Homo sapiens: one gene and its partner. The protein of the gene in region 2 interacts with the protein of the main gene of each other region in a biochemical or structural test. Each region holds a gene or a part of one and is shown on either strand. Other genes may lie near its edges.

Evidence for each region. The genes of interacting proteins can lie anywhere in the genome.
Region 1: the proteins of PDLIM7 (region 2) and GRIP1 interact in a test that uses a peptide from one of them, tested with the Homo sapiens proteins (one large-scale study listed by IntAct).

The regions. Positions count from the first base shown.
Region 1 is NC_000012.12:66,459,077-66,462,576, forward strand, and holds part of GRIP1 (glutamate receptor-interacting protein 1), read right to left. Parts: intron 1-3,500. UniProt on the Homo sapiens protein: May play a role as a localized scaffold for the assembly of a multiprotein signaling complex and as mediator of the trafficking of its binding partners at specific subcellular location in neurons.
Region 2 is NC_000005.10:177,491,105-177,494,604, forward strand, and holds part of PDLIM7 (PDZ and LIM domain protein 7), read right to left. Parts: intron 1,574-3,500; coding exon 1,422-1,573; intron 1,332-1,421; coding exon 1,301-1,331; intron 822-1,300; coding exon 703-821; intron 317-702; coding exon of another isoform or gene 300-316; intron 43-299; coding exon 1-42. UniProt on the Homo sapiens protein: May function as a scaffold on which the coordinated assembly of proteins can occur. May play a role as an adapter that, via its PDZ domain, localizes LIM-binding proteins to actin filaments of both skeletal muscle and nonmuscle tissues.

The DNA.
Region 1 (3,500 bases), on a different chromosome or scaffold from region 2:
TTCTATAAGAGTAGGGATATACTTTGCCTGTCTTGCTCACTAAATATATCCTAGCAACTAGAACAGTGCCTGGTATATAATGACTAATACATGAATGAATGAATAAACAAATGCATGAATGAACGGGAATATCAGCCAGAGTGTCCATGTGAACACTGCAGCAGCATTTTCCTTGAGACAAAAGAGTATTTATTGCAGGAGATGTCCCTAATGGATTCTCTCTCACCATCCTCATTCTACTTTGGGTGTACAAGAAGACATTTCAGCAAGACGCAGTTATTACTGTGTTTGGCCAATTTACAACCACCGACACTTTAGCGTACTTTTCACAAAGTACCATCTGTGTTTCAAATGAAGCCAGGGTACGGTGAATGCACTTCGGGATTCTACACCCACCTTTTGACCCGCTTCTTCATTGAGAGCTTTGAAAATTACTGGGCATTTGTTAGGACTGTACAGCACAATTAATAAGTCAATAAGGAAGATATTATTTACCAGCTATTGCTTTCTCAGACTGTGCCAATTGCTACAGGCAGGTTAAAGGTCATACCATTTACCTTGACTTTGAATTACTACTGGGGATTAAATCTTCATACATATAAAATAATTAAGAGACAAAAATGATATAAGATAATGCACAAAACTGTATGCCATGGATGATGAATGCAAAAGGTGTTGAACAAATAATGTAGGCCAGAGAAGAGAGCTGCTGCCTATTTTGAATGTACACTCCAAATGTTTTCTGTTTTACAGTGGTGTACTTGATAGGCAAGTATTTCCAAAGTTTAATAATAAGATGTTACATTTTTGGCATGTCCTGTCATTTTGCAAAGAGCACTTATAGACATTCTCTCATTTAATAAAGCCAATAATTGTAGCCTACTTTCACTGATTACTTATTATATACTAGGCACTGTGCTAGGTGCTTTTTCATGGATTAGCTCAGACAATGTTCACAATATTCCTTTGAGGCAAGTATTATTATGACCCCCATTTTACAGATGAAGCAACTGAGGTATAGAAAAGTTGGGTAACTTGCTTAAGACCCCACGTGGTGGAGTCAGAGGTGAAGCTCTGGACACGTGATCCTAAAGTCCCCGCTTCAACCACCAGACATACCGCCTCTTCCTATGGGTATGTCTAAGTCCCTTGTTATGGATAAGAAAACAACACATTTAAAATATTATGGTTCTTGTATCATTCCATGGTGACGTCACTACTGCAGTCTCAAGAGATATATGGCCACAGAAGTTACTTTTCTTTCTTCTTTCTCTAATTGCAGCCTCTTACTCTGTTCAGGATGTTCGAGAGAGCAGACCACAGTGGTTCCAGGTTGCCCTGGAGCTCTCAAATGGAAGGTCCTCCTGGTACTGAATGTGTCGAGTCTAGTGACTCTGGTCACATTTTCCTTTCCAAAACGTCAGTTTCCTTCAATCCAATTATGTCTCCTGAAAACCCTCAGTGGGAAAAATTTCTAACCTCACTGAAAACTCATTTCTGTCAGCTTCTTTAATGCTGCTATTTATCAGTGAAAGGCATAGCTAATCTCTTATCCCAAGTTGAGATATTCATTTCCACACTGGCCTGAAAACTCTGTGGTATATGCTTTACTGCTAACACAATCTGGAAATTTGGGAAGTGTGTTGAGAGACACACTGTTCAGGCATCAGAGATCTTGAAAAAACAATCAGAACTTTCTTGTGGAGAAAGGGTAAAACTATGTAAAACTCCACTAGTCAAAAATTTGAGAATTGTAAACACAATAATAATTTTTTGTTTGTTTTTCTTCTTTACTATGATTTAATTATGTTTAGGAGCCAAAATTTATTTCCTCTTGGAAATCCAAGTCTGATTTTAATGTGCAATATAACGGAAACACCTGCTTGATAAGAAAGACAGTGAACAACTTTCAGTAAACGTAGACGATGGAGTCAGAAGTGGAAGCTAGAATTACTTAAACTTCCTATCAGTTTCCTATCCCTGCAACACAAACGACATCAGGTTTTCCACAATAAAGGCAAAAAATTTGTGCTTAGTCCATATATTTTAGTGTATAAATTAAACTCAAATTGCCTTGGCAGGTTAAAAAATTTAATATTCCATGAGTTGAAAACACTTGAATTATTTATGAATTGTATATAGGGCCAATTAAAGAAAAATAAAAGAGATTACTAAAGATGCTAACATTTTAAAAGGGTCTGGTATGCATTTCCGATTCGCTGATACCAGAATTTAGCAAGCAAAACCCCATGCTGAGAGAGCACTACACAGTGTACATTCTTATGGCTACTGTGCTCCAAATCCAATGATGACTGCCGATTAATTTAAAGAAACTTAAACAGCTTCAGAAATCTCTCCTCTCTGCCAGAGTGCAGGAAGGGCCCACGGGGCCTCCTGATAGGAATGGTGTGCATCCTTGTGAACGGCACCTTCCTACAGCTGTTTGCATTGCTATTCCAATACTGTGATGCTGATTTTCTTTTCATAACCTGCCTATGCTGCATCATTTCTCTACTCCAATGTGTAAAATTAAAATCTGATAAGGGTAATGTTGTACTAGAGATTTTCATTAGCTTCAGGGCTGTCTAAGCTCCATTTAATTAAAAAGGTTGCATCCAGCTGACTGATTTAGTATGAAAATTATCTGGTCCCTCTTTCCCCCCGCCCCAGACTGTGGAGAAGTGTAGTGCATTTTAAAAGGTGGGAGACACAATACAAATGACCCCCTCATAAGCAAAATTTCAATTTCAGAGAAAACTGCACTGTGTCTAAATATACAGAAATGCATTATCCTCCTTCAGGCCACCCTGACAATACTAGTGAGGCCTCTAATTTCAAGGAGTACAAAGGAATGGTGTTTGCTTTAAGGAATAGGGCAGGAGAGGGAGTCGGAACAAATATCCTACTGGAAAACTTGACTTCATTTGATTTGGGGCTCAAAGACCCCTTTCTCATACCAGGTTTTGCCTAAAGGTGCCTAGGTAGATGGTATAAACACCCAGCAAATGTATCTGTGAATTTCAAGGGAGTCAAAATACAGATACCTTCAGCTGACACTTTCTATTGAATAAATGGAGTTAAATATTCTGATTCTCCCAGACAAGATGTTTGCTCAGACAGGTTGTTCTCTATCCTAAGAAAAAAACTCCACTGGCAAAAGACATAATATATTGTAAACCAAGGCTTCATATAACTGGTTCCCTCTGATTCCTGCCAAATATTTGAAGGTTCTGCTATTAAAATCCACTTTACTTATTTATTTTTAAGTGAGAGCTTTACTATTTGCCTTCATTGGCCTTCATCTAGGCTGGAAATTCAAAATGTATACCAGGAAGTCAAATTATTTTCCTTGTCTGCACATTCAATTTGCACCAAAGACTTTTTTAAGAAAAAAATATCAAATAGCACTAGCCTGAAAATTTTTTCCTCGATGTTAGGGTTTCAAGCAAATTATGTGTGGCTTAGAAAAAAGACTTTGGAAGATGAATTAGAGTAAACAA
Region 2 (3,500 bases):
CGCTGCTTGCTGGCATCTGGGACCAGCGGTCGGAGCGGCTGTCTGTGGGGAGGGTGTGGCTCAGAACCCCACACTGGGGGTGGGCGGTGGGGGCAGCCCCTCCCAGGATTTGGTGCATGTGGGTTTGGGTTACAGTGATGGGAGGGAGTGGGTAAGGGTGAGGCCAGGAGCCCTGCTGGGCGGGTAGGTGAGAGGACAGGAGGGCGAAGTGGAGAGGAGGGCAGCCAGGGTGGGGAGGGGCCGCCACCCAGAGTGCCAAAAGGAAGAAGAAAGGCACAGGCAGAGGGGGGCTCACTGACTTGTCAGGGGTCTGCACCTGTGAAGGAAATAAGACAGACAGACAGATAAAGGGACAAAGGGACAGACACAGGAGAGGAAGAAAGACGGGGAGGGGTCAGAACAGCCGGGGACAAGGCGGCACTGAGTGTCTGGGGCTCAGCTGGCCCGACACCACAACCCAACCCCCAGCCGCCAGCAGGGGGCGCGGCGTCATTCAGAGACCCCTCCCCAGGGCGGTGCCCTGCAAGGCGCCACAGCCTCGGGAGGGGCCCTGTGCCTGCAGCCCCACCCCGGCCGCCAGGGGGCGCTGCCGCACGGTTCCGCCGGGCTGGGGCGCAGCACAGACTGAGCAGCAGCGGGCAGCGGGCGTGGGGCCACAGTGGGCCTGATGGCGTGGGCGCGGGCGGGCAGGGGCCGACGTACCCATTCTGCTGCGGGGCGCTGTCAGCGGGCGGGGGCGCCCCAAAGGGCCGGGCCGTCTTGTTGAGGGAGACGCTGGGTGCAAAGGTGTACCGCGGAGGGTCCGCGGCGGGGGCGGAGGCCTGGGCAGAGACACAGCCGGGCAGGGCGGGCGGGCAGGGTAAGGTGGGGGCCTGGGTGGAAGTGGGGCGCCTGCAGCAGAGGACAGCGGCAGCTCCAGCCCCCCACCCCCACCCCACCCCCTACATCTATTTGGAGGCTACGGGGAGAGGACGACTCAGGTTTCAAGGGGCCCATTTGGGAGTGGCGATCTCAGTCCACGCAGGACCGAGGGCTGACCGAGTGCGGGCGAGCACGCAGCGCCGGCGGCGGGAGGCAGCAGGCGGACAGACAGGCGGACAGACAGGCGGACATGCGTGGTGCCAGGACCGTGCAGCAGCCCCTGGCTCAACTCCAGGGCCCTAGACCCGCCTTAGCTCCGGTTTCTGCCCTCCACTCCCGGCCAGGGATTGGGGTACCGAGAATGTGCCAGGAGGGCGAGCAGGCCTGGCCGTCCAAGCCCACACCGCCCACCGCCCGGATGTCCCGGCCAGCCTCGTACCTTCTGCGGTTTGCTCTGAACCGGCTGGGCCCTGGAGGAGAAGGAAAGCGTGACAGCGGGCCGGGCCCGCAGGGATCCCCACTGCCAGCGCGGGCGCACCCATCCATGTCCACCCGCATACCTGCTGAGGCCCAGGCTGAGGCGCTCCCCGCAGGCCCGGATCTTGTTCTGAGCTTCGATGTGTGTGAGGCTACCCGCATTCTCGCCATCGATGCTCAGCACCCAGTCACCCACGGCCACTCCGGCCTGCGCCGCTTTGCCCCCAGGAGTGAGCTGTGGAGAGAGAAGCAAAGTGACCGAGGCCCTGGACCCTGCAGACCCAAGCCAGGCTGACGGTGGTAACACTGCCCCACCCAAAGCTGTCCCACTTCCAGAACCCAGAGAGCTCTTCATTCAACATAGTTCTAGGCAGCTGCTGGACACTAAAGCAACCCAGGAGGTGGTGGCGCTCACCTGAGCTTCACAATTTCCCAGTCACACTGCTTATTTATTCACTGCCAGACCCTCTCCCTCAGGTGGTGCTCACCTGAGCTTCCCCAGTCACGATGCTTATCTATTCACCGCCACCACCCTCCCCCACAGTCCAGAAATTGCTATGATGTCCACAAACAGCCACGCTCAGGCTAAAGCCCAAGTGTTTCAGGAGGACCATTGCCTTTTGAGGCTCCTGCTGGCCTCCTGCCCAGGCCACTCCACCTACCAGATATGCCCTCTGGCCCATGCAGGGGGCAGCTTCCTCCCCGAAACCACCGGGGGCTCTTATGGACCTCTCACCCCCCAGCACCCTGTCGGGGGCCATCTATAGGGGTCTGCTGGGACCCTTTGAGAGCCAGGAACAGGCCCTGTTATCTCCCGGTTCCCTGTGAACACTGCCTGAATGGGACCTAAGTTGACAGCTGGGACTTCGTAGGCCATACATGGCTGTCACTCCCAAGCCCTCGACTGCCAATTTCCCCTGACCCCAATCCTTCAGGCTCTTGAGCTGGGAGTCCCTGGTTCCTGTGGCAATGAGTAGAGACAGTAGGCTGGGAGAAATGGCTGCCACCAGCATGAGCTGAGACCATCAGGAATGACTTTGAGGAAGCGGTGGGCCTCGGTAAAGGAGAATGGCGTGTGCTGCCTAGCGGGTGAGAGTTCACTTACGATGGCTTTGAATGCCAGGGGAAGGGACCAGGACTTGGCTTTGAAGGTAGAGGGGCTACTGGCAGTTTTAATGTCTGGGATTGGGTATCTCCCAGGCCCTGAGAGGGTGACCCTGATAAACCCCTTCCAGGCCTCTAGCCCAGCCCCAGCAACACAGGCAGGGCAGCTTGACTGGGTCCAAGCCTAAGGGACCACCCAGCCATCTGGCAAGAGGCCTGGCACTGCATCAAGTAGGCTTTTGTGAGGCAGTGCTGGAAGACAATTTCACTGGGTGGGGGGGATCTGGGGGGGTCCAGGCTGCCAGTGGCCCCAGGAGGCTCCTCAGGTGGGTCAGTGCACAGACTGAGCTGAGGCAGGGAGAGGGGAGGCAAGAGGTTTCAGAGAGATGTCAGAGGGCAGGGCAGCCAGGCACAGAGCTTGACAGCACTGGGAAAAGAAAGGCGAGCTGGGCTCAACATGACCTCTTGCTTGCGTAGGAGGTCAGAAGGCTAAGAGAGCTCGGCGGCCCCTTCCTCACTCGCTAGATAAGAAGACTTGCTTCAGTTTATTGAGCACCAACTATGCTACATATTGACACTGAATCTTCCAACAACCTTGTGGAGTAATCTGGGATTTTACCCATTTTGCACTTGCAAATGTACACAGAGAGGTTAAACAACTTGCCTCAAGTCACCCAGCTAGTAAGAGGCAGAGCCAGGAAGTGTCTCTGACCCTAAGGCTCCACCACTGTGGGCCACCTCTGCTGAGCATGGGGGCCCAACTGAGGGGTCAGCCCACCTGGAGACACCCTGAGCCACTCCCTCACCTTTAGTTCAATCCAACTAAATCAACCCCTTATACTGTGTATGGGGAAGTGACACCCCAGAGGGGAAGTGACTTACTCAAGGTCATGGTGAGTCAGTAGAAGGGAAACCTGGCCCAGCCACTCCCTGCCCACAGGGCTGGCTCCTGGGAGCTGTGGGCTGAGCCCGAGGTGGGGGTCTTGGGGTGCAGCTAGCTGGCTCCTGGAGAGGGGGTGGGGGGCGGGGACGGCTTCCCTTCCCAGAGTGAGGAGGGC